Homo sapiens: one gene and its partners. The protein of the gene in region 1 purifies or fractionates together with the protein of each later gene. This does not show direct contact. Each region holds a gene or a part of one and is shown in the gene's direction. Other genes may lie near its edges. The genes, in order: ZNF397, SCAND3, P3H1, P4HA1, P3H2, STK40 and FAM91A1.

What was found.
Region 2: the proteins of ZNF397 (region 1) and SCAND3 purify together in Homo sapiens (affinity purification with mass spectrometry; 2 studies listed by BioGRID and IntAct, with this or other methods). This does not show direct contact.
Region 3: the proteins of ZNF397 (region 1) and P3H1 purify together in Homo sapiens (affinity purification with mass spectrometry; 3 studies listed by BioGRID and IntAct, with this or other methods). This does not show direct contact.
Region 4: the proteins of ZNF397 (region 1) and P4HA1 purify together in Homo sapiens (affinity purification with mass spectrometry; one large-scale study listed by BioGRID and IntAct). This does not show direct contact.
Region 5: the proteins of ZNF397 (region 1) and P3H2 purify together in Homo sapiens (co-immunoprecipitation; one large-scale study listed by IntAct). This does not show direct contact.
Region 6: the proteins of ZNF397 (region 1) and STK40 purify together in Homo sapiens (affinity purification with mass spectrometry; 3 studies listed by BioGRID and IntAct, with this or other methods). This does not show direct contact.
Region 7: the proteins of ZNF397 (region 1) and FAM91A1 purify together in Homo sapiens (affinity purification with mass spectrometry; 3 studies listed by BioGRID and IntAct, with this or other methods). This does not show direct contact.

The regions. Positions count from the first base shown.
Region 1 is NC_000018.10:35,246,526-35,250,496, forward strand, and holds the end of ZNF397 (zinc finger protein 397), read left to right. Parts: 3' UTR 1-3,283; downstream 3,284-3,971. UniProt on the Homo sapiens protein: Isoform 3 acts as a DNA-dependent transcriptional repressor.
Region 2 is NC_000006.12:28,576,984-28,581,316, reverse strand, and holds part of SCAND3 (SCAN domain-containing protein 3), read left to right. Parts: intron 1-1,897; coding exon 1,898-2,045; exon of another isoform or gene 2,046-2,074; intron 2,075-4,333.
Region 3 is NC_000001.11:42,756,776-42,761,108, reverse strand, and holds part of P3H1 (prolyl 3-hydroxylase 1 isoform 1 precursor), read left to right. Parts: intron 1-1,718; coding exon 1,719-1,908; intron 1,909-2,125; coding exon 2,126-2,257; intron 2,258-3,186; coding exon 3,187-3,326; intron 3,327-4,333. UniProt on the Homo sapiens protein: Basement membrane-associated chondroitin sulfate proteoglycan (CSPG). Has prolyl 3-hydroxylase activity catalyzing the post-translational formation of 3-hydroxyproline in -Xaa-Pro-Gly- sequences in collagens, especially types IV and V.
Region 4 is NC_000010.11:73,065,296-73,069,628, reverse strand, and holds part of P4HA1 (prolyl 4-hydroxylase subunit alpha-1 isoform 2 precursor), read left to right. Parts: intron 1-645; coding exon 646-783; intron 784-4,333. UniProt on the Homo sapiens protein: Catalyzes the post-translational formation of 4-hydroxyproline in -Xaa-Pro-Gly- sequences in collagens and other proteins.
Region 5 is NC_000003.12:189,974,209-189,978,541, reverse strand, and holds part of P3H2 (prolyl 3-hydroxylase 2 isoform a precursor), read left to right. Parts: intron 1-3,856; coding exon 3,857-3,984; intron 3,985-4,333. UniProt on the Homo sapiens protein: Prolyl 3-hydroxylase that catalyzes the post-translational formation of 3-hydroxyproline on collagens. Contributes to proline 3-hydroxylation of collagen COL4A1 and COL1A1 in tendons, the eye sclera and in the eye lens capsule.
Region 6 is NC_000001.11:36,340,491-36,344,823, reverse strand, and holds part of STK40 (serine/threonine-protein kinase 40), read left to right. Parts: intron 1-559; coding exon 560-704; intron 705-844; coding exon 845-964; intron 965-1,375; coding exon 1,376-1,460; intron 1,461-2,850; coding exon 2,851-3,069; 3' UTR 3,070-4,333. UniProt on the Homo sapiens protein: May be a negative regulator of NF-kappa-B and p53-mediated gene transcription.
Region 7 is NC_000008.11:123,812,838-123,816,184, forward strand, and holds the end of FAM91A1 (protein FAM91A1), read left to right. Parts: 3' UTR 1-2,615; downstream 2,616-3,347. UniProt on the Homo sapiens protein: As component of the WDR11 complex acts together with TBC1D23 to facilitate the golgin-mediated capture of vesicles generated using AP-1.

The DNA.
Region 1 (3,971 bases):
CCAGCTCTTCTCTTATTAGGAATACTCAGGAAATACGAAAAGTGGGAATGTAACATTGAAACCTCATTTTGTATGAAAGTGTCATGAATATAGCAACCCAGGCTCTGTCACTGCATCTGATTGTTAGTGTGCCAGGTTATGGGGCTGGTGTGGACTGTGTGAGGCACTTCGTCTCAGGAACTAAAAAAAAAAAAAAAACTGACCCAATAAAGAACAGTGACAGAGCAGCAGGAAAGGTGGGGAAATGGCTTCATCAATGATTTGTTGAGCCCAGGGCAGGCCAGGAATTAGATAGGCATGAGAAGAAAGAATATAATTTACCCAAAGGTTATTTTTTGAGTACCTACTTTGTCCCAGGAACTAGGAATACAGTGGAAAACAAGACTGTAGTCTCTACAGTCTAATGGGCAAGGCAGCCAGACAGGCAGTGAAAGTGGAATGCTCCTATGTGACCTTAAGGAGCACCTGACTCAGCCTTGGATAAGGAAATGGGGGAAATGGCCTGAAGGATGAGGAGGAGTTAGCCAAGGTGGTACTCTAGGGAAGTGGTACCCCAGTAAAGAACAGTAGCCAAAGGCCAGAAACAAAGTGTGGAGCATTCCTTGAGTTCCTGTTGTAGTGAGGTCTTGTCTGTCAGAGAAGTCTGGGTCTGGCCAGACTCTTAAGCAGTGCCAATGGAGAAGTTCCTGTTAATAGACAAAACCTGGAGCCCTTGGGCCACAGGGTAGTCAAGAGCTTTGTCTTGGTTTATGTGACCCCAGGGAAAGGGCAAATATGTGGTTTCCTTGCCCAACCTGTAGGCTATCCTAGAACTTCCATGAGGGTGGTGGTGGGAATGAGGGTGAGAAAGAGCCCAGCCTATACCTCAAGAGTCTGCTAGAGTGTTAAGACTCTATTCTCCTTTGATTCTAAAGACAATATCAGAGCTGCTGTCAGGTTTCTTAAAATTCCCAACGCTCTGGATCAGAAGCTGCCATATCATTTGTTTCTGGGGCTATACGCCCACAATTCCTAGTACATTCCCTTGGGCTTTGGTGCTCAAAAAATATTTGTCAGTTGCTGGGTCTGTGACATTCTTTGGGCACCTCGCACATGTTCAGTTTTGTCTTATGTCACCAGTATTTCACAATATCTTTTGCAATTTTTTTTTTTTTTTTTTTTTTTTTGAGATGGAGTTCGCTCTTGTCCAGGCTGGAGTGCAATGGCACGATCTTGGCTCACCGCAAACTCTGCCTCCTGGGTTCAAGCGATTCTCCTGCCTCAGCCTTCTGAGTAGCTGGGATTACAGGCATGCACCACCACAGCTGGCTAATTTTGTATTTTTAGGAAAGACAGGGTTTCTCCATGTTGGTCAGGCTGGTCTCGAATTCTCGATCTCAGGTGATCCGCCCGCCTCGGCCCCCCAAAGTGCTGGGATTACAGGCGTGAGCCATGGCGCCCAACCATCTTTTGCAAATTTTATTAAAGACAATGCTAAAAGGAAGTGACAACTGAAACTAATGGTCACAGTCAGTCAAGACTTCCCTTTTCTGAGGGGCCTAGCAGGAAGAGAATATTTAGACTGATGCTTAGTGTAAGAAGGAATGTTGTACAGGTTAACCAGCAACACAAAGACATATTCAAAAGACCTAATAGGTCAGAAGAATAACATACCACACCAAAAACAAATCTGTATGGAAATCTAGAATCATGTGCATAGAAAAAGAATTTTCATGAGGATAAAAAGAAGCAAAGAGAAGTAATGCTCTTATTGGGGCGTGCATCAGTGGACATGTGCTAACCAGTAAGAACAGCAGGAGGCCTAAATGCCCATGTTTAGGGAGAGAATATGGAAAAAATGGATGGGATTATTTGGAAAAGATGTAAGAGATTAAAATACGTGGTAAGAGCTACTCAACTCTTGTTTTTCTCCTTTTCCATAGATAAAGACCTGAACAAACTGAAAAGGTAGGACGTAAAGTAGGAATTGTAAAACGGAAATACTCTTTATATAAGAAAGCTCTACTGTATGTCAGAAAGCAATGTAATAGATAGACCAAGCACAGTGGCTCACACCTATAATGCCAGCACTTTGGGAGGCCAAGGCTGGAGGATTGCTTGAGTCTAGGAGTTCAAGCCGAGCCTGGGCAGCATAGTGAGACCCCATCTCTACAAAAAATAAACAGAATTTGCCAGACGTGGTAGTGCATGCCTGTAGACCCAAGTATTTGGGAGGCTGAGGTGAGAGGTTCGCTTGAGCCCTGGAAGTCGAGGCTTCAGTGAGGCAAGATCACACCACTGCACTCCAGCCTGGGAGAGCAAGACCCTGTCTCCAAACCAAAAAAAAAGGAAAAAAGTAAATGTAATAGATACTTGCTAAGGGCTTTGTATATACTTATTATTGTTATTTCTCAGCACGTATGTAGCAGATGAGGAAATGAAGGCTAAAGGTCATATATCTACAAAGTGGGGAGGTCAGACTTTGAACCCACAACCTGACTGTGGAGCCACTTCAGTATACTCTCTCCCCATAAGAAAGTTCCAATAGAAAAAAAATGCTACTTAAGTAGGGAAATCACAAAATAAGTGCCAATGAACAATAAATGTTCAACCTCACTACAGTTAAAATGTATATTAAAGCAAGAGTTGAGATGACACTTTTCCTTATAAAACAGACAGGGATTCAGGGACATTGGGACTCTAATGCTGCTGGTAAGACATGAATAAATACATACCATCTCTGGCAATCAATACCAGAAGCTTTAAGCATTGCCTTTTGACTTTGAAATTGTACCTGGAAATGTATGTTTCAGTAACCATCATGAATGTACACAAAATCCTGAAACTCTTAAAACTGATGTCACAGGCCAGGCACAGTGGCTCATGCCTGTAATCCCAGCACTTTGGGAGGCTGAGGCGGGTGGATCACCTGAGATCAGGAGTTCGAGACCAGCCTGACCAATATGGTGAAACCCCGTCTCTACTAAAAATACAAAACAATTAGCTGGTGTGGTGGCATGTGCCTGTAGTCCCAGCTACTTGGGAGGCTGAGACAGGAGAATTGCATGAACCCGGGAGGTGGAGGTTGCAGTGAGCCGAGATTGTACCACTGTATTCCAGCCTGGGTGACAGAGTGAGACTGTGTCTCAAAAAAAAAAAAAAAAAAAAAAAAAACACTGATGTCAATTAATATTAAATGAAGTATTCATGATATATTGTTAAGTAAAAATATTACAAAACAATATGTACAGTATGATCCTATGTAAAATATATATTTATGTATTAAAAATACTGAAAACATAAAGTGCTATACTGGTTATGTGTGGGTGCTGAGGTTGTAGGTGATGTAATTTTTTTCTTGTGCTTTTTTGTGTTTTCCAAATTTTTCTATAGTAAACCTCTAATACTCTTAAAATTAGGGGGCAAGAGTGAATGGAATCCCAGGATGCTTGAGAAAATATTTTAAAAGCACTTGCTTTTCATAGCATCTCTTGTCTCTTCCAAGTTTCAGGAAATTAGCTAACTTGTTAACTCTGATCCCTTCATCACTGGTAAAATGACAATGGTAAACATAACCATCTCACACCTAGTATATTAAAAAGTCTACAAAGTATAAATCTGGGTGCAAAAGGAATTCTTGCCTGAAAGATTTACAGTTGAGAAAAGCAATAGCTTTGAAGTGGAGATCTTTGATTATTAGAGTTTTTCCATGTATTCCATAGCCATAAGCAAGTCATCTTCCAACTCTAGACCCTCACTTAAAGGAGCTGATGTAGATGATCTCTTATGGTCAAAACTTCAACATTCCACTTTTTATGAAATGGAAGGGGCACCAATATAGGGTGGATGTCAAAGGAAATTTTTTCGTCTTCACCACTCTTGCTTGGAAGAAAAGTAATTCATGCCTTTCCCTTCTGCTCAGGGCTGTCCTGTTTCTCTTGGTATAGAAGCAGTCCAGGGAATAATAATGTCTACCTTAAATGAGTCTTAAA
Region 2 (4,333 bases), on another chromosome or scaffold:
ACCCAGGCTGGAGGGCAGTGGCACGATCTTGGCTCACTGCAACCTCCACCTCCCAGGCTCAAGCAATCTGCCTTCCTCAGCCTCCTGAGTAGCTGGGACCACAGATATGTGCTACCATGCCTGGCTAATTTTTTGTATTTTGGGCAGTGATGAGGTTTCACTATGTTGCCCAGGCTGGTCTCGAATTCCTGAGCTCAAGCAATCCTCCCACCTCGGCCTCCCAAAGTGCTGAGATTACAGATGTCAGCTACTGCACTCAGCTTCTTTCCAGCGTTAAAAAAAATCAAACCCAGGAATTGAATACTGAAAGACTAATGACTGTCATGACCAGTTTGAAGTAACTTCAGTTTTGTAATTTATTACCACTACCCAAGGTACTCTTCAAACTTCTGTGGTAGAGGCAGAAGTGGAGTTCCTCCCGGTTCTAAGACCAGGCCCACCCATTTTGGTCTAGTCCAGCTGGTGGAAAAGTAGAGGAATCAAGAGACTAGATTTGTGTTTGTGCTTGGGGGGGTGGGGGGGTGGGGGAGAGTCAGTGAATAATTCAGCACAATGAACCATATCCATATTTTGTTTCTTAGTTGCTCCAAAAGCTGGGATTGTGTATACTAACATTACAGAATTGATACATTGTTTAATTATAAACAGCAGGTGGCCCTCTTTCACAGATTCTGTTTCTGGCAGTTATGCAAAGATTTAGACAAATTGAAATGCATGCTATTATATTATACAAAGCAATTTACATAAGATACCTTATTAAGCTCAGAGAAGGGAAAAACATACCAAAGGGAACTGGCTTAACCATTTTATGAATTTTGAGAAAATGATTTTTTGAAATGTGCTTTGCACAGTTTAAGAATTTTTTTTTTTTTTTTGAGACGGAGTCTCGCTCTGTCGTGCAGTGGCATGATCTCAACTCACTGCAACCTCTGCCTCCTGAGTTCAAATGATCCTCCTGCCTCAGCCTCCTGAGTAGCTGGGACTACAGGCGTGCACCACCTCGTCTGGCTAATTTTTGTGTTTTTAGTAGAGATGGGGTTTCATCATGTTGGCTAAGTTGGTCCCGAACTCGTTACCTCAGGTGATGCATCCACCTTGGCCTCCTTTTATTAGTCCCAAAATGCTGGGATTACAGGCATGAGCCACCATGCCCGGCAAGAATAAATTTATTATGTGGTATCCAAGTTGGAGGAAAGGAGCATGACACAGAATCTTAAATCCCAACATGATATTCTAATAATATGTAGGCTTTCATCTCCTCCTATGTCACTGGATATTCCCTTTTAGAATATTCTGGTTTATGTGCAATTTTGGGATTCACTATCCATGGACATTTTCCAACTCGATGTAGCGTAAGTGTAACCATTAATAACTCTGTAATCCTTTAACAATTTGTACATTTTCTTAGGCCTGGTGAATCTGCATTATTAATAGTAGAGACAGGGTTTCTCCATGTTGGCCAGGCTGCTCTCGAACTCCTGACCTCAGGTGATCCACCTGCCTCGACCTCCCAAAGTGCTGGGATTACAGGCATGAGCCACTGCACCCAGCCCAATATTTACTTTTAATTAACCACACTGGAACTCATTTACAATTTTTTTCAGTCATCACGGTTTAGGAGATATTTCTTTAACGTGCTTTCATTGTTATTCCCAGAAACAGAAACCAAAGGGATGCGTTTTAACTCCTGTCCTATAGAGACATCAGTTTCTGTTGTATGGCTCTGGCTTTATTAGTCCCAGCATTTTTCATTTCTCTTCATGTTTTATCTTGTACTTAAGAATTCAGTAAAGACTGATTTTCTTCTTACATTCTATTTTAGTGGAAGAATACAAGTTTAGCTATGACAAACTACAATTATTTGTATTGTTTACCAAATGCACCTACTTGTCCACAGGTCTCACAGGGCACATATGGGCAGGAAGTTTCTATGGAAGAAATGATCCCTCTGGATTCTGCAAAGGAGTCTTTAGGCACCCAGCTTCAGTCTATGGAAGATAGAATGGAATGTGAATCTCCAGAGCCACACCCACTTCAAGATAATGGTGAGAATAATTTAGTTCTAAGAAAGAAGGTGAGACTTGGGAGAATGAAGGGTCTAGTATTGAAAGTTATCAAACCTCATTCCATTTCAGCTTCTACTGAATGTATTAATAGTTGAAGGAAAAGCCAATCAGTATAGTGTAATGTTATTAAGGGAGTTGAATTAAAACAGTCAGATAATAATGTCAAAAATACTTGAACACAAGATTTTTCATGGATACTTTGTAATGAAGTTAGTAAGTACCTGTGGATAAATCAGATACCTCTGTATGTAAATACTGAGCACTTGTCAGTGTAGTCATGGGTCCCATTGCTGTAGCCTCTGACCACAATTTTTGTCACATAATGACTGTGTATACATTGGAAATACTATTTGGAAATTCTACCTTAGAATATGGAATTTCTGAAGTCTATGTTTATTAGTGTTCTAAGGTCTGTTATTGGTATAATGTATAGTAGAGGTGGAGTCTGGCCTGGTTCTGGAACAGCTATCTTTTCCATTTAAAAAGGATTAGGTAAAATGGATACAATGTTTTTCTCCTCTTATAGCCCTAACAATTTTCTTAGACATTAATATTGATTCTACAAACTTCTGGGGCTCATATTTTCCTGGTTCTCTTGACATTGCCCTGTATTTCTTCTTCTAATTCATTCTTATTTATTTTCCTTCTCTGCTTCTAGTTCTATAGCATGGCACAAAATGGATCAGTATGGAAAGAAATGCTATCCATAGGATGGTCTTTTTCAGTCACATTTTGAGATAGCACTTACCATTATTGTTATTTTATTATAAAGTTAACAATTTTCTATTGAACACTAGATGTAGTAACGTGTTAGATAATGTGAAAGATACTAGAGAAATAAGTGATCTCTGTTTCTTTAGAAACTTACAGTCTTGTTGCATCTACCTATAAAACAGTTAAAGAAAAAACTGCGATAGTGCTAACTTGTGTTATAAATAGATAATGATTTTCAGGAAAGGAAAACTCACTGTGAGTTTAAATTTAATGATCAAAGAAGCCTTACTGGAACAATTGAGAGTTAAATGAGGCCAAACCACACAGTAACATATCATTAATTTTAACCTAGTTTTAGAAAATATAAACATTTTAGATGATTTAAATTTAGTAGTTCATTACTGCTACAGAACCAAACGGGTTCACTTGCCTGGCACAGGAAAGCCAAACATCCACATCAACAGGAGAAAAGAGGGCATTTATTTGCAGAGTGTCAAGCAAGGAGAATTGGTCCCCTCAAAATTAAGACCCAGTTTCCCCAATGGTTTGCAAGTAAAGTTTTTTTAAAAGAAGGGAGTCAGAGGTTACAAGCAAAGTCATAAATCAATACGTGGACACTGTACATTATTTTGACCTAAAAAGGTAGGATGGACATCTCAGAGAAGGGGCTTACAGGTCATAGGTAGATTCAAAGATTTTTTGATTTGCAATTGGTTAAGGAGGCAAAGCTTTGTCTGAAAATTTGGGATCAGCAGAAAAAAAGGTTAGCTCTGGCTTGCGGGTGTGACTTCTTCCAGGCCCCACAGGAAGAACTTTAGAACAAAGCAGCGGTTGGAGTTCAGTCCTCAGTTCCCCATTATCTGAGGTCTTCAGACCAGTGGATCCATTTGGTGGAGGTATGGGTTTCTGAAAAACAACTTAGGGATATATGTTAAGATGCTATCTTTAGTTAATATAGGGAACATCTCATGACTAACTTTTTTGGATGTTGTTTTAAGGTATTACCTTCTTGTTTATCAAGTTGCTCATTTACTTCTTAAAGATAGTTAGATGCCTGGAATTTCCCTTGAAGGAACTCAAGATTTTCTGTTATTACCATGCTTGGGGTTAGGGGTGGCTGACAGGCCCCTAAGAGGGGTCCCTGCTCTGTCTCACTATTTGGTATGCAAATTGATAGTATAAATGATGTTGACTTGAGTGAAAGTATTTTTCCAAGCAACTATAAAACTATCTAGAGATGTTATGCTAATTCCAAATTATTATTTTTTACTTTTTCCAAAATAGTTTTTTTCCTTAACACTTAGCCAAATTTGAAGTATTCTTAGTGTTTCTGTTATTATGAGTATTCTAGAAATTTCTTTTAATAAGCTTTATTAAGTCAGAAATTTTTCACTGATTTTGACTCATCCAGTACTCTTATTAAAATTAGTAATGAAGCTATTTGTATTGAGTTTGTAGTTAATAGCCCTAAAAGGGAGCTGATATGAATATATTAGGTTGGAACTTACTCCTCAAATGTTGATGTAATAGCTAACCTGACTGAATAAAAGAGA
Region 3 (4,333 bases), on another chromosome or scaffold:
AATCCCAGCTACTCGACATGGAGGCAGGAGAATAGCTTGAACCTGGAAGGTGGAGGTTGCAGTGAGCCAAGATTGTGCCACTGCACTCCAGCCTGGGTGACAGAGCAACAGTCAAAAAAAAAAAAAAAAAAAGAATGACTTTTAAAAGTAAGTTGTGGCCAGGTGCAGTGGGTCACACCTGTCATCCCAGCACTTTGGAAGGCCAAGGCGGGCGGATCACAAGGTCAGGAGATTGAGACCGTCCTGCCTAACATGGTGAATCCCTGTCTCTACTAAAAATACAAAAATTAGCTGAGCGTGGTGGTGTGTGCCTGTATTCCCAGCTACTCAGGAGCCTGAGGCAGAAGAATCGCTTGAACCCAGGAGGCGGAGGTTGCAGTGAGCCGAGATTGTGCCACTGCACTCCAGCCTGGGTGACAGAGCGAGACTCCATCACACACACAAAAAAAAGTAAGTTGTGTTGGCCGGGCGTGGTGGCTCATGCCTGTAATCCCAGAATTTTGGGAGGCCGAGGTGAGTGGATCACTTGAGGCCAGAAGTTCAAGACCAGCCTGGCCAACATGGTGAAATCCTGTCTCTACTAAAAATACAAAAATTAACCAGGTGTGGTGGTGTATGTCTGTAATCCCAGCTTCTCAGGAGGCTGAGGCGCTAGAATCACTTGAACCCAGGAGGTGGAGGTTACAGTGAGCTGAGATCATGCCACTGCCCTCCAGCCTGGGCTGTCTGTCTCAAAAAAAAACTCTGTCTCAAAACAAAACAAAACAAAAAGTAAGTTGTGTTTATTTGAAAACTGTTAGCCCTACAAAAAAGTGCAAGAACCTAGGCCAGGCACGGTGGCTCATGCCTGTAATCCCAGCACTTCGGGAGGCCGAGGCGGGCAGATCACCTGAGGTCAGCAGTTCAAGACCAGCCAGACCAACATGACAAAACCCCATCTCTACTAAAAACACAAAATTAGCCAGGCGTGGTGGCGCATACCTGTAATCCCAGCTACTCTGGAGGCTGAGGCAGGAGAATTGCTTGAACCCTGGAGGCGGATGTTGCAGTGAGCCAAGATCGCACTATTGCACTCTAGCCTGGGCAACAAGAGTGAAACTCCGACTCAAAAAAAAAAAAAAAAAAAAGTGCAAGAATCTGTCACTAATGGGGGGGGAAGAAAAGTACAAGAAAATCATAATGAACTCCTAGATATCTTTCATCTAGATTAAGAGTTAAATGTTTTTTGGCCAGGCACAGTGGCTCACACCTGTAATCCCAGCACTTTAGGAGGCCGAGTTGGGAGGATTGCTTGAGGTTAGGAGTTGGAGACCAGCCTGGCCAACATGGTGAAACCCCGTCTTTACTAAAATACAAAAATTAGCTGGGCACAATGTAATCCCAGCTACTAGGGAGGCTGAGGCAAGAGAATCACTTGAACCCAGGAGGTGGAGGTTGCAGTGAGCTGAGATTGTGCCACTGCAGTCCAGCCTGGGCAACAGAGTGAGACTCTGTCTCAAAAAAAGAAAAAAAGAGCTAAATGTTTTTAAATTTCCAGAGCTAAATATTTTGTAAAGACCATTTACAAAAGGCCTTCATTTTATAGTGGTACCCAGGTCACCCCTTTCCATCCATAACCTGAGGAACAGGAAATTAGGACCCCTGTGAAGGTGGCTGAGGGCAAGGAGAGAGGGTTCCTCCTCTGTGGCCTGCATTTGAGTGCTCCTTCTTCCCAGTAGCAAGAATTTCGACTGGGAGTGCGACTCTACTCAGAGGAACAGCCACAGGAAGCTGTGCCCCACCTAGAGGCGGCGCTGCAAGAATACTTTGTGGCCTATGAGGAGTGCCGTGCCCTCTGCGAAGGGCCCTATGACTACGATGGCTACAACTACCTTGAGTACAACGCTGACCTCTTCCAGGCCATCACAGGTGCGTGCAGTTCAGAGCCAGACCTTCAGCCAGGCCTCCTGGGACTCTAAGGTCACCATCTGATAATATAAATGGGGACTCTTCACCCTCATTCCTCAATTTATTAAATCTGAGAAGCTGATGAAAAATTGCTTCCATTTGAATTTGTTCATCTTAACCAGAATTTGAGTTCTAAAGAGTGACCTCATAGTTATTCCTTCTGTTTGATTCCTTTCAGATCATTACATCCAGGTCCTCAACTGTAAGCAGAACTGTGTCACGGAGCTTGCTTCCCACCCAAGTCGAGAGAAGCCCTTTGAAGACTTCCTCCCATCGCATTATAATTATCTGCAGTTTGCCTACTATAACAGTAAGGCCTACTTTCCTTCCTCTTTCTCTGCTGGCTAACTAAGAAGCTAAAGGCAAGGTGGGCAGGGATTACAGCCACTTACTTCCTCAAGGTGTTTGGCTTATTTCAGTAGCTATGGGAGGCACCATGCCAAGTGATCCCTGGGTAGTTTGTTATAAACAACTGGCCTAGGAAGCCAATACCAGCAACCCAAAAAGCTGGGGGAGGGAGACTTAGGACCTCATCTCTTGTCCCTTCTATAACTTGTAATCTATTTTTGCTTTTGAATTAAAGTTAATAGCAAAATAAGGGTATGCCACAGTTTAAACTAGCTCAGAGGACATTTGCTAGCCCTCTCCCTGGTATAGCACTGATGCTTTTGTGGGGCTGCCAATTAATACCCAGAAAACCAACTCTTTGCAGAGTCCCTACTGTGTGCTAAGCATTACAAACATATTGATGAGTGTACAATATTTACAGTTGAGTTGAGATGACTAACAAATATCAACAAGAACTATTTTGCCAAAGAGACAATCTGCTATTGTAATCTTCCTTGTCTTCTGAAAATCTATAGAAAAAAGAAGGTAGGAAGACAGGGAAATTGATCTAATGATTGAGTGTATTGAGGCAAAATATTAAGGAGTATTGGAATTATTTGTGAATCTTAAAAGATGTGGGCATGCAGAGAATTCTGATTCTTTTCTGTTTCATTGTTAGGCAGCCCTGAGGACATTGACCACCTCACCTTAAAATTAATCACACATTCTATGTGTATTACTTAACTCCTGCCCCTGAAATCAGGCCATCATGTTAAGTAGCAGGCACCAGCTTGTCATGCTGCCATTGCCTCAAGCTTTGTGGAGACTGAACACTAAGTGGTCCCTGGTGCTAGGATTTTATCCTTTCCTTTTGACTCTTTCCTCTCAGCCATTCTTCTTTCCACTTTGCAGTTGGGAATTATACACAGGCTGTTGAATGTGCCAAGACCTATCTTCTCTTCTTCCCCAATGACGAGGTGATGAACCAAAATTTGGCCTATTATGCAGCTATGCTTGGAGAAGAACACACCAGATCCATCGGCCCCCGTGAGGTGAGAGACTTCCTTCTGTTATGACAGCTGCCAGCTGAACTCAGACCTGAGGGCGGAAGAGTGGGGTAGCAGAGGGGAGTAGGCGCTGTGCGTGCAGGGCAGGGGCCAGATGTCAGTGTTGGGGCCAGATGTGAGTTCAGTCACTCGGCTTGTTATTCAGAGGAGAAGGGAGCACAGGGAGGGAGTGTGGGGAGTACACAGGAGCCTCAATTAGCGTTATCTGGGCCCAGAAGTCTATTCTCTGAGTCCCGCAGAACTGCGCGGTGAGCATATTCTTTCCCCTCTTGGCACCCCTAACTTGGACACTCGATATTATTTGGCCAAGAGCTATCATTTTTCACTTAATACTGGTTGTTTTTTTTCTGCTCACCTGTTTTCTGTCTCCATTTTCTTTCCCATCTCTTCTTCTTCCTGCCATTGTTTGTTCTCTCCCATCTTTCAGCATTTTCCCTGTCTCTCTCCAAAACCAGGAGAAATATCTGTATAACACAAAGACTGCTGCGCTGAAAGGAGACACCCAGGCTCTTCTTCCGAGCTCTGGAGTCTGAGAGCCTCCAGTAGAAACAGCCTCTTGCTGCCCCTCCTGTGTGGGTTGTCATTGTAGTTGTCCTCTTTAGCCACTAGATGGTGACCATCTGGCTTTAAGATGGCACTTCCGGTCTCTTTTGTCTTGTTTGGTTAATACCTTTTCCCTGCCTTCCTTATGGCCATTAAGGGGAGTCTGAGGGGAGTGAGGGGAAATAAACCCACGTGGCCAATCTAGCATTTTTAACTAGAAGTCCCCTTTTGGAAAGAAGGCAACTAACATTTGTTGAGCCGCTGTCCAGGCGAAGCTCTGTGCGGGGTGGGCTGTATCCATCATCTCATTTAATCATCACAGCCACCCTGCAAGGTTGGCACTCTTCTTCCCACTTTAGGGATGAGGACTGTTAGCATCTGAGAGATGAAGTAACTTGTGCAGTGGCTTGTGGCCAGTCAGTGGTGACCGGAATCTGTTCCCTGCTTGG
Region 4 (4,333 bases), on another chromosome or scaffold:
TTATATAAATCCTCTAAGATTAGGTTTATATATTGTAAATTTTGGTTGATCAACGTCATGTTTGATAATTAAACTGATTTAAATATATTTTAGTAAACTAGCTTTGCTGTTGATCTTAAATATATAGTTAATATCTCTTCCTTCTCCTTGAAGAATTCCACCAAACTTTATATATTTACATATTTATATAATGTGTAATACATGGAAGAAAAAAACAACTTTAAGAGCACATATTTTACTTACCATCTGTTATCTGGAAGTATAATTGATTGTCAATGAATGTCATTTCAGACCCATAAATGTGTTCATTTCTCAAACTTAGTGGATGCACTTTGTTTTCTTGCTGTGTTATATAACTAAAAACTCATAACTATTATGTTAGGTGATCTTTACCTGCTAATACAGATACAATTTATATAACAGCGTCACAGTCCTTAAGCAACACTAGGCTTTTGGAAGATTGAACAAGTTAGAAGTATGCCAAGTCTTATTCAGTGTATTTAATTTTTTCTTGTTGAGTATGTAGAACTTTTCATGGTGTGGTAGAAAATAATAAAATAGATTTTGAACAATCCTTATTAAGTCTCTTTATGGGAAGTTTATGAGGTTCTACAGTTTTTTTTTCTTTGATTTATCTATTTCAAGGCTTTATCTCTAACCTAACCATTCAGAGACAGTACTTTCCTAATGATGAAGATCAGGTTGGGGCAGCCAAAGCTCTGTTACGTCTCCAGGATACCTACAATTTGGATACAGATACCATCTCAAAGGGTAATCTTCCAGGTAAGATCATTCTTCCATTCTATAAAATACCTATCACCTAGCTTCTCTGTTGAGTCCATTAACACAATGTTAGTATAAAAAAGACTTGCATTTTAAGATTTTAAATTGTAGTTTGTTTCATAGCCTTCGAAGACTAAAGAATCACCTTCCCTTTCTCTTAGGGCTTAATAGTTACGGGTATGCTTCTAGCTTCTAGCTTGTTACTCTGAAAGCTTGTATTGATAGAGACTAACTTAAGTAGGGAATTTTAGTGTGTAAGGAAAAGAAACTATCATTTCACCAAATGTTTTTATTCAGAACACCTAATACTATTTGAAAGCTTTGTATGTAAAGCTATAAGGGATTGATAGTCAAAGTTTATATGTTAAATAATTAAAAGCCAAGATGTTTTGGGTATCCACATATGTTTAAAGTGTTCCATAGTATGGAACATCCTACTTTCTGACCTATTTTTGGCAAAGTCCTCTTTTTAAGTTACAGTTGCTTTCATGATAATTTACTTTTGCCGTCCCTCACTTTTTCAAAGTTTGTGACTCATTACCACTACTATCTCCTGTTATTGTCAGCTGCAGAAATAAAATATGTTGTCTGTGTCTTCACATTGAAATTGATTTTCTCCGTAAGAAAAAATCACTGGGATGAGTTGTTAATCAAAATGTTTTCTTGCTCATCTCCCTTTATTTGAGGTGAAGGTATCCGTTGGTAAAAACTAAACATGGTATAATAGTAAATAAAATTTCTGTTAAGCTGGAATATAATTCCATTAATTTGAACTTCCAAAAATGTACAAATTTGCAAATTTTCAGTTTCTACTAATATTATACATTATAACGCTTTTGATAAGATTATAACCTTATTTTTAAAATTGGTTTCAGGTTTTCATAGATATTAAATACTTAATATGTGCCAGCTATTATGTTAGGTACTGGGGACACATAATGAACAAGACATACACTACCCTCGCCATTAGGGTATTTAACATTCTTACAGTATAGTAAGATGAGTGCTTGGATGGGAGAAATTCAGGATACCATATGAGCACATCAAAAGAAACCTATTGCTGGACCTCATAAGGGATGTAAAGGAAGAATTCCTGGAAGATACACATTAAAAAAATTGAGATCTAATGGACCAGGAATTAGCCAGAAAAATGGGGGAGAGGGAGACAGGAGTGGGTGTGGGAAAAGTGTTTCAGACAGAGGGAACATGTAGAAAGGTCAAAAGGAGAGAGCATATCATATTCAGATAACTAACATGTAGTTTGTATGGCTTAATGTAGAGTTCAAGAGGTGAACGCACCAGGTGGATATGGGGGTTTGGCTTTGTGAGAGTAGTGAGAGCTGAGACTAGAGAGGTAAGCAGAAGCCATCTCTTGGAGAGCTTTGTAAGCCATGTGGAAGAGATTGAACTGTCCTGAGTGCAGTGCGGAGCTATTAAAAAGTTTGTAAGGGAAATTTATGATTTTTCCTTTTAGAAAACCATTCTGGCTGCCGAATGGAGATTGGGTTGGGGCCAAGGGACGAAGAACCAGGGAGGAGGCTGTTGCAAATATTTAAGTAAGAGGTGGTAGTGGATAGATTATCAAGCTACTTATTAGAGTAGAATAGTAGAATTTGATGATGTACTTGATAGGAATTTCTGGCTTCATCAACTGGATAGATTCCATTTAACAAAATAGGGCTGGCATGGTGGCTCATGCCTGTAATCCCAGCACTTTGGGAGGCTAAGGTGGAAAGGATCCCTTGAGGGTAGGAGTTCAAGACCAGCCTGGGCAGCATAGCAATTCCCTGACTCTACAAAAAAATGAAAACTTAGCTGGGTGTTGTGGTGCTTGCTTGTAGTCCTAGCTATTTGGGAGGCTGAGGTGGGATGTATTCACACTGCTATGAAGAAATACCCAAGACTGGGTAAGTTATTTTAAAAAAGAGGTTTAATTGACTCACAGTTCCGCATGGCTACGGATGTCTTAGGAAACTCACAATCATGGCAGAAGGCACTTCTTCACAGGGTGGCAGGAAAGAGAATGAGGGCCAGCAGGGGAAATGCCAGGTGCTTATAAAACCATCCTATCTCATGAGAACTCACTGTCACAAGAACAGCATGGGGGAACTGCCCCCATGATGCAGTTATCTCCACCTTGTCCCGCCCTTGATAGGTGGGGATTATTAAAATTCAAGGTGATATTTGGGTGTGAACACAGAGCCAAACCATATCACGGGAGGATCACTTGAGCCCAGGAGTTCAAGGCTGCAGTGAGCTGTGATCACGCCACTACACTCCAACCTGGGCAACAGAGTGAGACCCCTATCTCAAAAAACAAAAAGCAAAAAAGAAAACATCCCACCTCAGCCTCCCAAATGTGTGGTGGTGGGTAATAAATGTTATTTAGATTACTATATGTGTTTTGTTTAAAAAATGATTATATTCCCATCAAAATGGTCCTGAATATTATTTAACCCTGATTTCACTGTGTTTAGTCTTAGGGGCAATATTCATTCTTTCTCAGGTGCTTTTTATCTCCTTGTTGACTTTTTTCCTCTTTTATCACAGTTTTGGGCTAGTTCTTATTGACTTTTCTTTCAGGCAAATTCCTTATAAGTAGAATAACTGAAATTTCCTAATCACATTATACCCTATAAGTGGTAAAAATAATAGCATGAATACTAGCATAAGAGTTTTTAGGCTCCCCCAACCCAGATTATTTTCTGTTGTTAATAGTCAAATATCACAAATGTGTTCGAAGGCTTCTTGTGCACCTTCCCTTGTTTAGAGGTAATGACTATTCTGAACTTGGTGCGTATCCTGTCATCTTTTTATACTTTATCATATATATTTTCCATTGTATTGTGTTTTTAAATTTTATGTCAATAGTACATCATACTCTATGTATCTTTCTACAACCTTTTTTTAACCTAATATTTTCAGTAAATTTATCTGTGTTGATCAGATTCATCTAACTGCTAATGTGGTATTGTATAACATTATTTATTCATTCTTCTGTGGATGGATGTACATTTAGATTTTGTCCAATTTTTTGCTTTATCAAATGAAGTTTGATACATCTTTGTTGATTTCTTTTTGTGGCCATGTACTCACGTGCAAGGCTTTCTCTTAGGGTATAAGAAATCATAGGGTATTTGGTTTTTCATCATACTTACCAGATGTGGCCAGATTGCTTTCCAGAGCATGTATTTATACTGTCACCAGCATTGTATGAGAGTTCCCATTTCTTCATATCCTTGCCAGCTCTTGGTTTTGTCAGACTTTAAAAATTTTAGCAATCTGGGTGTGAAATGGTGGGGGTGAGGGAGGAAGGATGCATGTATTTTAAATTTTCTTCAAACAAAAAAGTCAGAGAAATGCTTAGTGAATTTATATTGATGCCACATCACTCCTTGATTAGTTTCATCTGTTTCTTTTGCCTCTTTGGGCCTATCTTTTGAAATGCTTTGTTGGTATTTTAATGAAAAATCTGATAGGTTACATGCATTTTGACATCAGTGTTGTCCTTATAGTTCTTAAGGACTTCCTTCAGTTTTCAGATTGTTTG
Region 5 (4,333 bases), on another chromosome or scaffold:
AGATATTGAAGACTCCATGTTACATTCTTCCTTCACTTGATCTTTGCATGTTACTTGTGGAATGCTAGGAGAATTGTCAATATCCCAGTAGCCTTCTCTTAAGGCTCTATGCTTATTAAGGTGTCTCAATCAGAACTTAACACAGTATTCCAGGTGTAGCTTATTAATTCAACAATAACGATAGTAATGATAATACATACTTATAATGGAGCTTAAGACTGGTAGACATTTTCCTAAATATTTCATTTTTGCTAACTTTCAAAATCATATTTTGAAAATAAGCTAATTATGTTTAAAATAATACATCTTCAATGTAGAAAAAGAGAAAAACTTGGCAAAGTATAAACCAACTTAATTCACTAAATCTCTCATCTGTCTTTCATTTCTATTTGAGTTTTTATTAGCAGATGCTTTTCAGTGAATCTACAAGTATCTTATCTTTCTTCTTGAAGGAACATTTCTTTTTATACTTCTAAATTGGAATGGAATATACAGTTCACTTTTCCAAATATTCGAGGGAATGCCTGTCTCAATTTGACTACAAACTTTAATCAGCTACATAGATTAGAACAGCCTTTTCCAAATTGCGTTCTATGCTAAGACGTTTAGGGGGGATTTTTAAAAGACTACTTGGCTGGGCGTGGTGGCTCATGCCTCGAATCCAAGCACTTTGGGAGGCTGAGGAGGGAGGATGGCTTGAGTCCAGGAGTTGAAGACCAGCCTGGGCAAGACCCTGAAAATAAAAAAATAACAAGACCCTGACAAAAAAAAAAATAAACTAGGCATGGTGGTGCGTGCCTATAGTCCCAGCTACTTGGGAGTCTGAGGTGGGAGGATTGCTTGAGGATAGGAGGTCAAGGCTGCAGTGAGCCATGATGGTGGTGCCACTGCACTCCAGCCTGAGTGACAGTGAGACCCTGTCAAATAAATTTTTTAAAGACTACTTTTTTTATTGCTGTGAAAACATAATGAAAATATAGCAGCTTATGAAAATATCCATTTATTATCTCATAGTTTCTGTGGGGTAAGAGTCTGCAGAGAACATAACTGTGTCTTTGGCTTCAGGATCTCTCACCGGTTTCAGTCAAGTTGTTGACCAGGGCTGAGAATTCAGTTCCCAAAAAGTTGTTGGACTATGGCCTTTTAGTTCCTAGTTGGTTGTTGGCTGGAGGACGCCCTCTATTCCTTGCCATGTGATCCTCTCCAGTACAGCCGCTTGCTTCATTACAGCATGGCAGCGGAGAAGGCAAGAGACTGAGAAGGCAAGAGAGAAGTTGCAATTTCATGTAACATAGTCACAGAAATGACACCTTATCACCTTTGCCATATTCTACTGTTTAGAAGTAAGTTCCAGGTTCCACTCGCACTTGTGGGAAGCAAATTGCACAGCTGTATGAATGTTGGGAGGCAATGATCATTGCAGCCCATCGTAAAGTCTCTGCTGCAGGAAGGAAGTTGGGGGAGTCGGGGAGGGAGAGAATTGTATTCAATTAAGGCTAAAAACTGCTGCATATTATGTTACTACTTAGGACATTAATAAGGCCTGTTCACATATTAAAAGTTCTGAGACGTCCTCTTATCTTTTATTTAACCCAGTACTTTCCCAGAACTTTCAATGCAACACAATTTGAGAAATAGTGAATTGTAGAAAAGCATATTTTTCTATTCAACTAAAAGATGTGATACTGAAACGAGGCTTATGGATATATTCTTGGGATCCAAAAATTCCATATTTATAAATTTTAATCACAATTTTCAAAAATTAAGAGAAGCAATTAGGGGTTATCTAAGGGATCAACTTCTAGCCAGGTGGTGTCATGGGATTCCACAGTTCAATGGGCACAGTTATGGTCATATTAACGCCAACTAATAATACTTCAATGATTAAAGACTAGAAATAAATGAAATACGATGCACTTATAAATAATGTATTAGGCTTAGATGAAAGCTGATATGGTTTAGCTGTGTCCCCACCCACATCTCACCTTGAATTGTAATAATCCCCATATGTCAAGGGCAGGGCCAGGTGGAGATAGTTGAATCATGGGGGTGGTTTGTTCTCCTGGTAGTGAATAAGTCTCACAAGATCTGATGGTTTTATAAACGGGAGTTTCCCTGCACAAGCTCTCTTGCCTGCCACCATGTAAGACATGACTTTCTCCTTCTTTGCCTTCCACCATGATTGTGAGGCCTCCCCAGACGTGGAACTGTGAGTCCGTTAAATCTCTTTTTCTTTATAATTTCCCAGTCTCAGGTATGTGTTTATTAGCAGCAAGAAAATGGACTGATACAAAGGCCAAAATTAATCGTGGTACATTAAGATTGTGTAGTAGTTTAACTAGAGAAAAGTTGTGGTAGAATAGTAATTACACACCAACAGTACTATAAGGAATCCTGGCTCAAAAGAACCCAGACCAGATCAGTGAGTAGAATATTCATGTGGAAGGTAGCTTTTTATTTTCAGAAAAATAACGTTAACCATTCCATTTGTTGATTGGAATTTAGTTCATTTTATGGTCTTGCTTTTATTTAGTCTTGTAAATTGGTTTGGGTACTGTATGAAACTACTAAAATAAATAATGTGAACATAGTTTTATGATTGCATATATAGAAGTAAAATTAGAGTGAAAATAATTTGTCAGCACTGGAGCTCCTTAGGGAACTTCTGCTTTAACAGATAACCGAACATTACTCTAGATTGAGAAACACTGCCTCATGCTTTTAATATTCCATTAATCATGAGCTGTAGTGAGTCTTTTATCCTAGCTAGACTAATAAACATTTAGACAGTGCTCTTCCCTAGGCTGACTAATCTATTTTATAAAGTAGACATCAATTTCAATTGTCTCTTCTTCCTCTGTTGGAGTGTTTTAGGCCAACGTGTTGGTGACCTTTGCTAGACCTGGGGTGGCAGGGAGTTGTGCCTTCCCTATCCCTGCTGTCTTATCTTCGGCTGTTGCTATGGACAAGCACGCACCAGGCCCCTTGGGAGTGTTATAAATGGTTAGAAGCAGTGTTTTCTTTTCTGTTCCATTTTCTGGTTCAAAATGTTTGCACTATGCTACACCAGAAGATTTCCTCTCTATCAGAGGCTTTGTCCTTCAGTCCTACTCTATGAAAAAAAGTCTTTGTCAGGTCTGGATTTTGTAATTTCACAACCTAAAATGTGACCCCAAAGCATCACCCTCTGAAGAGCCTATCTGGAGTTAATTTTATAAACTTGTGGTCTCTCTCTGGGAAGAGAGTAGGTGCCTAAGGGAAACCCTCCTGTGTGGAAATAGAAACGTGATGATTTTGCCTGGAGAACAGAGAAAAACACTCCAAAAGCAAGACAACCTAGGGTCAGTTGTGTGGTAGGAAGAAGACTGAGGCAGAGTCAAGTGACTTGGGTGTGACTACCTGAATCACCTAGTGAAGGTGTTACTCTAGACACCAGTGAAACTGAGGTGTGCATGTCATACCTGGGGACCCAAACATGCAATCTGTGGTGTTGCGACAGAGGTATGAATGAGGGGCTGTGAACAAGGGTGGACTTTCTCAGAAGAGAGTCCTATGAGATGCCCAGTCGACTTTTTGGGATCAGCATTAGAAACAAATGCAAAAGTAGTTCTATCTCTCCCAAAATAATGTACGCATGTAACATTATTATGACATTATGAGGAAACCCGATAGACATCTTTCTCCTGAATCTATATTGTGTTTATCAAGCTTCCTAATTTGCAATTTGTCTTTGCATTTCTAAATATTCATGAAGAAATGGACTCACTCGAATTGCACATTGAAAGCTGTTTGGTATTCTGTGCTTCCTTTCGGGGGACAGAGGTAACAGGGAAGACAATGTGCTCTGTTCCTGTAGGTGGTCCTCTACTCTATGAGAACATCACATTCGTCTACAACTCGGAGCAGCTGAACGGGACTCAGCGGGTTCTCCTGGATAACGTCCTGTCGGAAGAACAGTGCCGGGAGCTCCACAGCGTGGCCAGTGTGAGGATCCGGAGAAGGAGGGGAGCTCACTGCGCTGGCCTGCCAAGAAGCTGGAACTGCTTTGGTCCTGGTCTCATCTGGAGCCAGACAACAAGCCCTGAAATATTGCTTTCTTGAGGAGAAAGACATAAATTATTTTTGAGGAACTTTTATAGCCTTTGGGTTGGGATTATTTTAGTTTTCCCGGGTGGGATCTGGAATAGCTACTGGCATATTTCCTAGCCCAACAGCCATCTAGCAAGGTCCCTGCCTATCATATAAAGTTGCTGGAGAAATCCTTTTATTTTAATTAATTATTAGGCAATATATCAATAATTTACATTCTTTTTATTTCCATAAAAAGTGACAG
Region 6 (4,333 bases), on another chromosome or scaffold:
GGCCATCCTTCATTTAGCAAATACTTGGGTCCGTGCTGGGCACTGGGGCTCAGCAGTGAACACCGCAGGGAGGCACCTGCACCTGAGAACTTCCCTTCTAGAGGGGAGACGGGGAGTCACAAGTAGACAAAGGAGGGGACCTGCAAGTAGTCATCCGGGCTGTGAAGGAGGCAGGTGGGGTGTGGGGACGGTGACAGGAGGAGCGGCCAGCTCATCTGGAGCCAGCTAGTTATCTGCTGTGCCAGTGTTCTTGACCCCCTGCTTGTGAGCTGCTGTGCTGGGTGCTGGGGCTGCAGACCCATGCCTGGCTCCCAGGGGCTCGCCATCTGGCCGGGCGGGGCAGGTGCTGTGAGCAGGTGCTGAGTGAGCCCTCTCCTTGGGGCAGGAGAGGTGCATCCTGAGGAACAGGGGAGCGGGGAGCACGGGCAGGAGCTCAGAGGACGACTCTGGGGGGACTGGAAGTGAGGGTGGCAGGTGGAGGGTCCCAGGTGGGATTCCAGGCTGGTGAGCCACGGTGGTGCTGTGGCCTGAAGACAGTGTGGTATGTGTGTGCCCGTAGGCCGGCCGTACCGTGGCAAGCCCAGTGACATGTGGGCCCTGGGCGTGGTGCTCTTCACCATGCTGTATGGCCAGTTCCCCTTCTACGACAGCATCCCGCAGGAGCTCTTCCGCAAGATCAAGGCTGCCGAGTATACCATTCCTGAGTGAGTCCTGCCTCCCGGGGGGTGGGGGGGGCAGCCAGCCTGATGGGCTTAAGGCAGGGAAACGGCACAGTGAGCCTGGGCATCCTGGCCACAGACCCAGCACCACCCACTGAGCCCTCCTCCCCAACTCCCTGCCTCAGGGATGGACGGGTTTCTGAGAACACCGTGTGTCTCATCCGGAAGCTGCTGGTCCTTGACCCCCAGCAGCGCCTGGCCGCCGCCGACGTCCTGGAGGCCCTCAGTGCCATCATTGCATCATGGTAAGTGGACAGGCACTTGACCGGGCACAAGGCTGCGTCCTCAGGGCCTCTGCCCATCCTACCCAGAAAAGCAGCCAGTAGTCAGCCTGCTTCTCTGCCAGTTAGAGTCAGATTTCCAGATTCTCTGCATGGACAAGATTGGGAGGGCATAGGCAGAACTGAAGGTTGAGCAACTATGGGCTGCCATAGTTACCCAGGCCCTGCCAGCGGGGCATGGGCATTGCCTCACTGAGTTCTCACCACCACCTGTAAGGGAGAAATTGTCCCCCTTTATGGGATAAGAAAACTGAGGCTCAGAGAAGCAGTCTCTCATGGCAGGAACACAACCCAGGTGTGTCTGACTCCAGTTAAGTCTGGGATCAATGGACCTGGTCTCTCTGGGGCCAGCCTGACCTGTCTGCCTCCCTGCAGGCAGTCCCTGTCATCTCTGAGTGGGCCTTTGCAAGTGGTTCCTGACATTGATGACCAAATGAGCAATGCGGATAGCTCCCAGGAGGTGAGTTGGGGAGGGCAGATGGGCCATTACCCAGCCCCAAGGGACAGGCTTCTGGGGGCAGGCAGGGCAAGGGCAGAGGTGGCAGCTACCCGCAGGCCACAGAGTTTCCTTGGTCTTCTTCCCCAGCCTTGGGGTGGGAAAGGGAGACTTCAGTCCTCAGCCTGAGCTGCCTGGGGCCTGCCTTGGGCTTGGTGTAGCTGGAGATCTTTGGCCAGAGAGACCTGTGAGACAGCCGAGCTGGAGCCAGTGCCCAAGTGGCCCAGGCCAGCCCTCTCAGCTTCCTCCTGCTGCCCAAGTCACATTTCTCTGCCCCCTGACTCAGAGTTCTCTCTCACCCTTCCTGCTTTTCATTTTTCAGATGATTCATTTCTCCCTATTTCTTTCCTCCCCATTCCCTGCACTGGAGAAAGTGTTGGGCCTAGGGTGGGGGCAGAGACTTGGGCACCAGGCAGCAGAGGGCAGGTGATCTTAGGGTGCCCCCTGGAGGGCAGGGCTTGGCCGAGCAACAGCATTGCTGGGCCCTGGATATTGGAAGGACCTTCCCTCCCTGGCCCACCTTGGAGCTCCACAGTGAGCAGTGTGCAGGTAGGACCAGGAGGGGCCGTGCCTGGGAGAGCCTCCCAGAGCCTCCTGGCCCCCGAGGAAAGAGAGTTCCAATCCCTACCCACCTCCAGCTTCCACCCTTTAGCTGTTTGGCTAAAATCATCATCACTAGCCCGCAGTGAGTGCCTACCCCGAGGGCACCTCATTCAGCCCTCACTGCGGGCCTGCGTGGCCTGTGTTCTTAGCCCCATGTTACAGAAGAGGAAACAGGGTTAGAGAGGACTTTCCCAAAGCCACACAGCTTAGAAGTAGTGGAGCTAAGCCTTGAACCCAAGTCTCATCCGGAAGCCCTGCTGTCTCCTGTGGTGACTGGCACGGGGACACCACTTCAGCTTCTGTTACCATCTGCCTAGACCATCCCAGGGAGCTCAGCATGGGGCCCTGCGTATGTGGCTCCTCCAGGTGCTGCGCCCCCAGCCCAGGGCTTGCTCGTACCTCTTGACGTGCATTAGCCGCCTCAGGGCTCAGAGAACCTTTGCGAGGGGCCAGACAGCTAAGGCTTCTGAGGTAAAGTGACCTCTCACGCAGCCAGTGAGTTAGGAAGCATGAGTCTGCGTCAGTCCCGGGTCCGCAGGGCGGCCTGCAAGGGGAGTTGAGGTTGGCTGGAGGGGGTCAGGGACCCACCCTCAGCGCCACTCCCACCCCCGGCCTTGAGGCCTGAGGGTGTGGTGCCTGGAAGGGTGACTGCAGGAGCCAGGCTGCCAGCACTCTTGCCTGCCCTCCTGTCTGCTGCGCTGCCTTCATCTGGGTTTATCTTTGTCTCCTTCCCACCCTCCCCGCCTCAAAGGCGAAGGTGACGGAGGAGTGCTCCCAGTACGAGTTTGAGAACTACATGCGTCAGCAGCTGCTGCTGGCCGAGGAGAAGAGCTCCATCCATGACGCCCGGAGCTGGGTACCCAAGCGGCAGTTCGGCAGCGCACCACCGGTGCGACGGCTGGGCCACGACGCACAGCCCATGACCTCCTTGGACACGGCCATCCTGGCGCAGCGCTACCTGCGGAAATAACAGCCTCAGCCGGGGCCACCAGCACTGCTGCCACTTCTTCCAGCCCCAGCCAAAGGCGTGGCTGTCAGGGCTGGGCCCTGTAGTGCTGGACTCTCCCGGGCCACAATAGGGACAGGGCAGGGACAGGGACAGCCCAGGTCACACGTGGGGTCAGCAGAGGTACCACGAAGCTACCTTTTGGGATGATTGCTCGATTGTTTGGTTTTTAAATCTGAGAAGCCTAGATAACTAATCTGCTTTTAATCACGATGTTTTAATCTACCTCTGTCTCTTTAACCATGCTGTCTCTGGACTGAGCAAGAGGGAGGAGGGAGCCTGCTCACCCCACTCCAGGGCCTTCCCCAGCGGCCACCAACTGACCTGGGGCGCTGCTCCCCACAGTCCAAATAAGCTGAAAGTGCAGCTCGCTGCAGGCCCCAGAGCGAGCTTCCCCTCCTCCCTGCTCTCCCAGGCCCCTGCCACAGCCTCTTTCCGTCCCTCTCTTTCTGATCCAGGCCCCTCAGTCCAAGCTTTGGAAAACCTTCACCTCATCTTAAACCGAACTCAAATATATTTATTTTTTTACCATACCAACTTCTCTCCCATCTCTAGGTGGCTCAGTCCATGGCCACTCCCTGCCCCCAGCCTGGCTGGACAGCAAGGAATCCACAGCCCACACGTGAGCTCCCTCCTCACCCCCAGGCAGGGAAGCCCCTCCTGCCAGTCCCTGTCCCCTTTCAGCCCACCAGTCCCTCTCTGCTGCCGGTGATGGGAGGCCTTTCTAGACCTGGCTCTTTCTCTCCCGTCTCAGTGGCTTCTCTGAGGTGCTGTACACGCGCGTTAACCTGTTCCCTTCTCTATCCTTCCCCGTGGTACTGAGCTCACGTGGACTCCCAGTGCGAAGGGGCCCATGGGTTGGGCTGCAGGCCTGGCCGTGAGCGGGGGCTGCCTGCACGCTCCCCTAGCCTACTCTTGTGTTTAGGGGATGGTGGGAACATATCCCAGTGCCCTTGCCTCATAATAGATGTGGTGACTCTCCCGGTAGACCCTAGCAAGGGTCCTCCATGGTGGTGAGGGACTCAGGAGAATTGTAGGGATTGGGGGACCCTGCCTGCCTGGCTTGAGAACAGCCCTGCTGCCCTTTTGAGCCGAGATTTTGAAGTGGATGCCCGTCTTGCCAGAAATGCTGTTCTCACCAGAATGCCCCCTCCCCTTGCCCTTACTGGACTTGGCCCTGCCTGATGCCAAGCAAAGACCCTTCCCCAGAGGCCTACCCCCCATATGT
Region 7 (3,347 bases), on another chromosome or scaffold:
ACATATTCATGTTTTCTGAAGTTTTGCTCATTATTGCACATCTTATTGCGACAAAGTGCTTTTTAGCAGCCAGCACTGTATTTTTTACCTTGAGACAATCTGCATTTCTTTTATAAAACTAAGTATATACTTTATAGGCTTTATGATGACTGTTATGTTTATAAGCAGTCACTATGAAAATTGCAATGGTAATTTTATATGTTAGTTTATCAAACATAAATCTTGTTTAATTTTATATTTTGTTACCTATACTTTGGGGGATCAAGGGAAGAGATGGAACTCTTCCTCTGAAAAGGCTTCTTGGTACTTAAAGTAGTAAAACTATAAAACAATAAACATCCAGTATTGAGAGATGATATGATAGGGCATTATGAATTCCTATGGGTGTCTGTAAATTATGTATGTCAGTTGGACATTGTAGAAGGTATGTAAATCAGCATAGTTGTGTATAACTTAACCTTGATTTATAAGGTCTTAAGATTATGACTATTCATTGACATCTCATGAGAAGCTTTAGAAGACTTTCTATTTTTAAACACCATTTATATGTGGACTTCTGTTGTCACTGACTTTGGGCTTTATATTTTCATAGAGTCTTTATGGAAAAAATAGAATTTATTTTCCACTCTTGTAGCTATAGCTGCTGCACACTTTCACCCTGATTTATTTTTTTGTTTCTTAGCTTTGATGTTTTCAAACCAAGGATTGTGATTTTAGGTTAGAATTACATATTAGAAGCATTAAGACTATGTCTTTGGATCAGAATGCTTTAGTGATAAACCTACTTTGAAGACATACTCTTAAGCAATCTGGATCTTAAATTTATGTGAATACTTTTTTAGAAAATGATAAAGAAAAATGGAATTACTTCAAAGTGTTTCTTGAGTCATTGATTCTTTTAGCATCTCAAATGTTAATTAGAATAATTGGAATCACTTTTTAGACTTTTCAAGTTACCTTCCTTGGGAAGTTTGTGCAGTGTTATAGTTTAGTTTAGCTCCTCTTACAGGGTAATGGTTTGCTAGTTTAAAACTGTAACCAAACGAACTGGTCAGACAACATATATCTAAAACACTTAAAATGTTAGGAAGTTTGGGAATGTTATAACCTAAACGTTTTTGCTGGTAACTTTTTGTTATTTATAGATATTTGTGTATTTAACATACATACTTCAGGAAATATATGCCTTTCCTAAAACTTAACCATGCATTCAATACCATGGCCTATCTATAGAATTGAATATTTTGGACCATGTTATCTGTGGCACAGTCAGTGCTGTGTTTGAGGTAAATGCAGTAACGGTTAGTTTTCTACTTTGTCTTATAGAAGGTAGAAACCATGTGTATGTTATGTTTGTCTATAAAAGAAAAAATACTAATATTAAATAATTTCTTACGACTCTGAGTCACTCACTTATTTTTCCAATAATTGATATTGTACATTCCTAGTGCCATTAGGTATGTATGTATGTAACTTTTACAGTTTTTCAGCTGAAAGTTGTAAGTATTTTTTTTTTTTGATCGGGGCTCTTTAATCTCATTTTAATTTCCTTTGTTTGAACTGTAGTTATTTTATTTATTCCTATATTAACCATCTAAACCAACTGTAATGACATGTACACTAATACAGAATTGAACATTTGTAGTTGTTGGCAGTGAACCCAGTTGTTGGTGAATTTAAAGCTTAAAATATGGGAATGATTTGCTGCTATATTTCCTTTGAGAGAGAAAGGAGGAAGAAATAGAACCTAATAGTGATCATGAATTTTAGGGAAAGTACCGAAGAACCATGGGGTCCCCTCTGGTTTCTTGTGTTGAATGAGGCAAGGGTAATCATCTGATTCCGAGCTGAAGACCTCTGGTCCTCTTAAGGAGGGAGAGTGCATTTTTAGAGCTTTTAGCAAAATGTGAAAAGCTGATGTTTGCGCCTTGCTTTGTGAATTTGGCTTTGTTTTACTTATACATTAACTCATGTAATCTCTTAAATCTTACAAGCATTGATCCATTTCAACAAAAAGGTAAATTTAAAATGCAGACTTTGTTATTTGCCAAAGAAGATTCATGAAAAATTTACGTCCAATTATTTTGCAAATAGTTAATTTCATTTGGCTTTTTACCATGTTCCTTCCTTTCTTTTTCCCGCTTCCTTAATGTAATTTAAACCCTGGCAAACATTCTTTAGAAACCAAGAGGAAAGAAAGAACAAATATCAAAAAAGACATAGAATTTAATATTGATACAATTTCACCTCTAAAATGGATTTGAAGAAATGCAACTTTATATCAAAAAATGTCATCTGATTTCCTTTGTTTCTTTTTTAAATTATGTAATCAGATGATTTTATGTTTTTTTTTCAGGGGAGCGGAATATTGGTTTCTTTTACTTGTTGTTTTCAGTTTTCTCTGCCATTCATGTTTCTTTTTTGTGTTCAGTGTTTCAAATACAATTTGTATTTAAGGATTTTAAAATACCAAACTGTAACTGAGTACAGTGGATCGTTTTCTGTTAGGATGTTAATATTATACAATGAAATCTATAAAGTGTTGTCAATTTGATTATTGACACATATAACATGTTTACAAATAAACTGTGGTATTGATCAAGTTACTATGAAAATGTGTTTAATTTTCTGAAAGTTCCTGTCTTAATTTTAAATACAACCATGGTTTGGTGCTGTGGCTTTCCTGTACTTAAAAAAAAAAAAAACCCACAAAAAACTTAATTATTTTGTAGTAATTTCAGATTTACAGAAACTGGCAAAGATAGTCAGATGTTCCCTGTACCCTTCACTGAGCTTCCCCTAGCGTGGACACCTTCTGTAAACTATGGCAGGTCTATGAAAACTCAGAAGTTAACCCTGGTACTAGTATTTTCTAAACTGCACACTTGATTAGGCTTTTACCAGTTTTCCCACTAATGTCTTTTTGTTGTCAAGATCCAGTCCAGGATACCACATCGCATGTATTTAGTTATCAGTGTCTCATTAGTCTCCTCCAATATAACATTTTCTCGGTCTTTCATGACCTTGACACTAGAAAGAGTACCGGTCAGTTATTTTGTAAGACATCCTTCAGTGTGGGTTTGTCTGATGTTTCCTCGTGATTAGACTGAGGCTACGTTTTATCAGAAAGGGTACTACAAAGGTGATGTGCCCTTCCCCCCAGTACAACATATCTTAGGGTACATGATGTCAGTATGTATCACTGGTGATGTTTCTTTATTGGGTAAGATGGTGTTTGCTAGGTTTTTCCACTGTAGGGTACTCGCATTTCTATTGCTGGGCCTGTGTATTCCGGCTATGGAGAATACCTGGAGAGGCAGCCGCCATATGCTGGTCACTGATTCAAA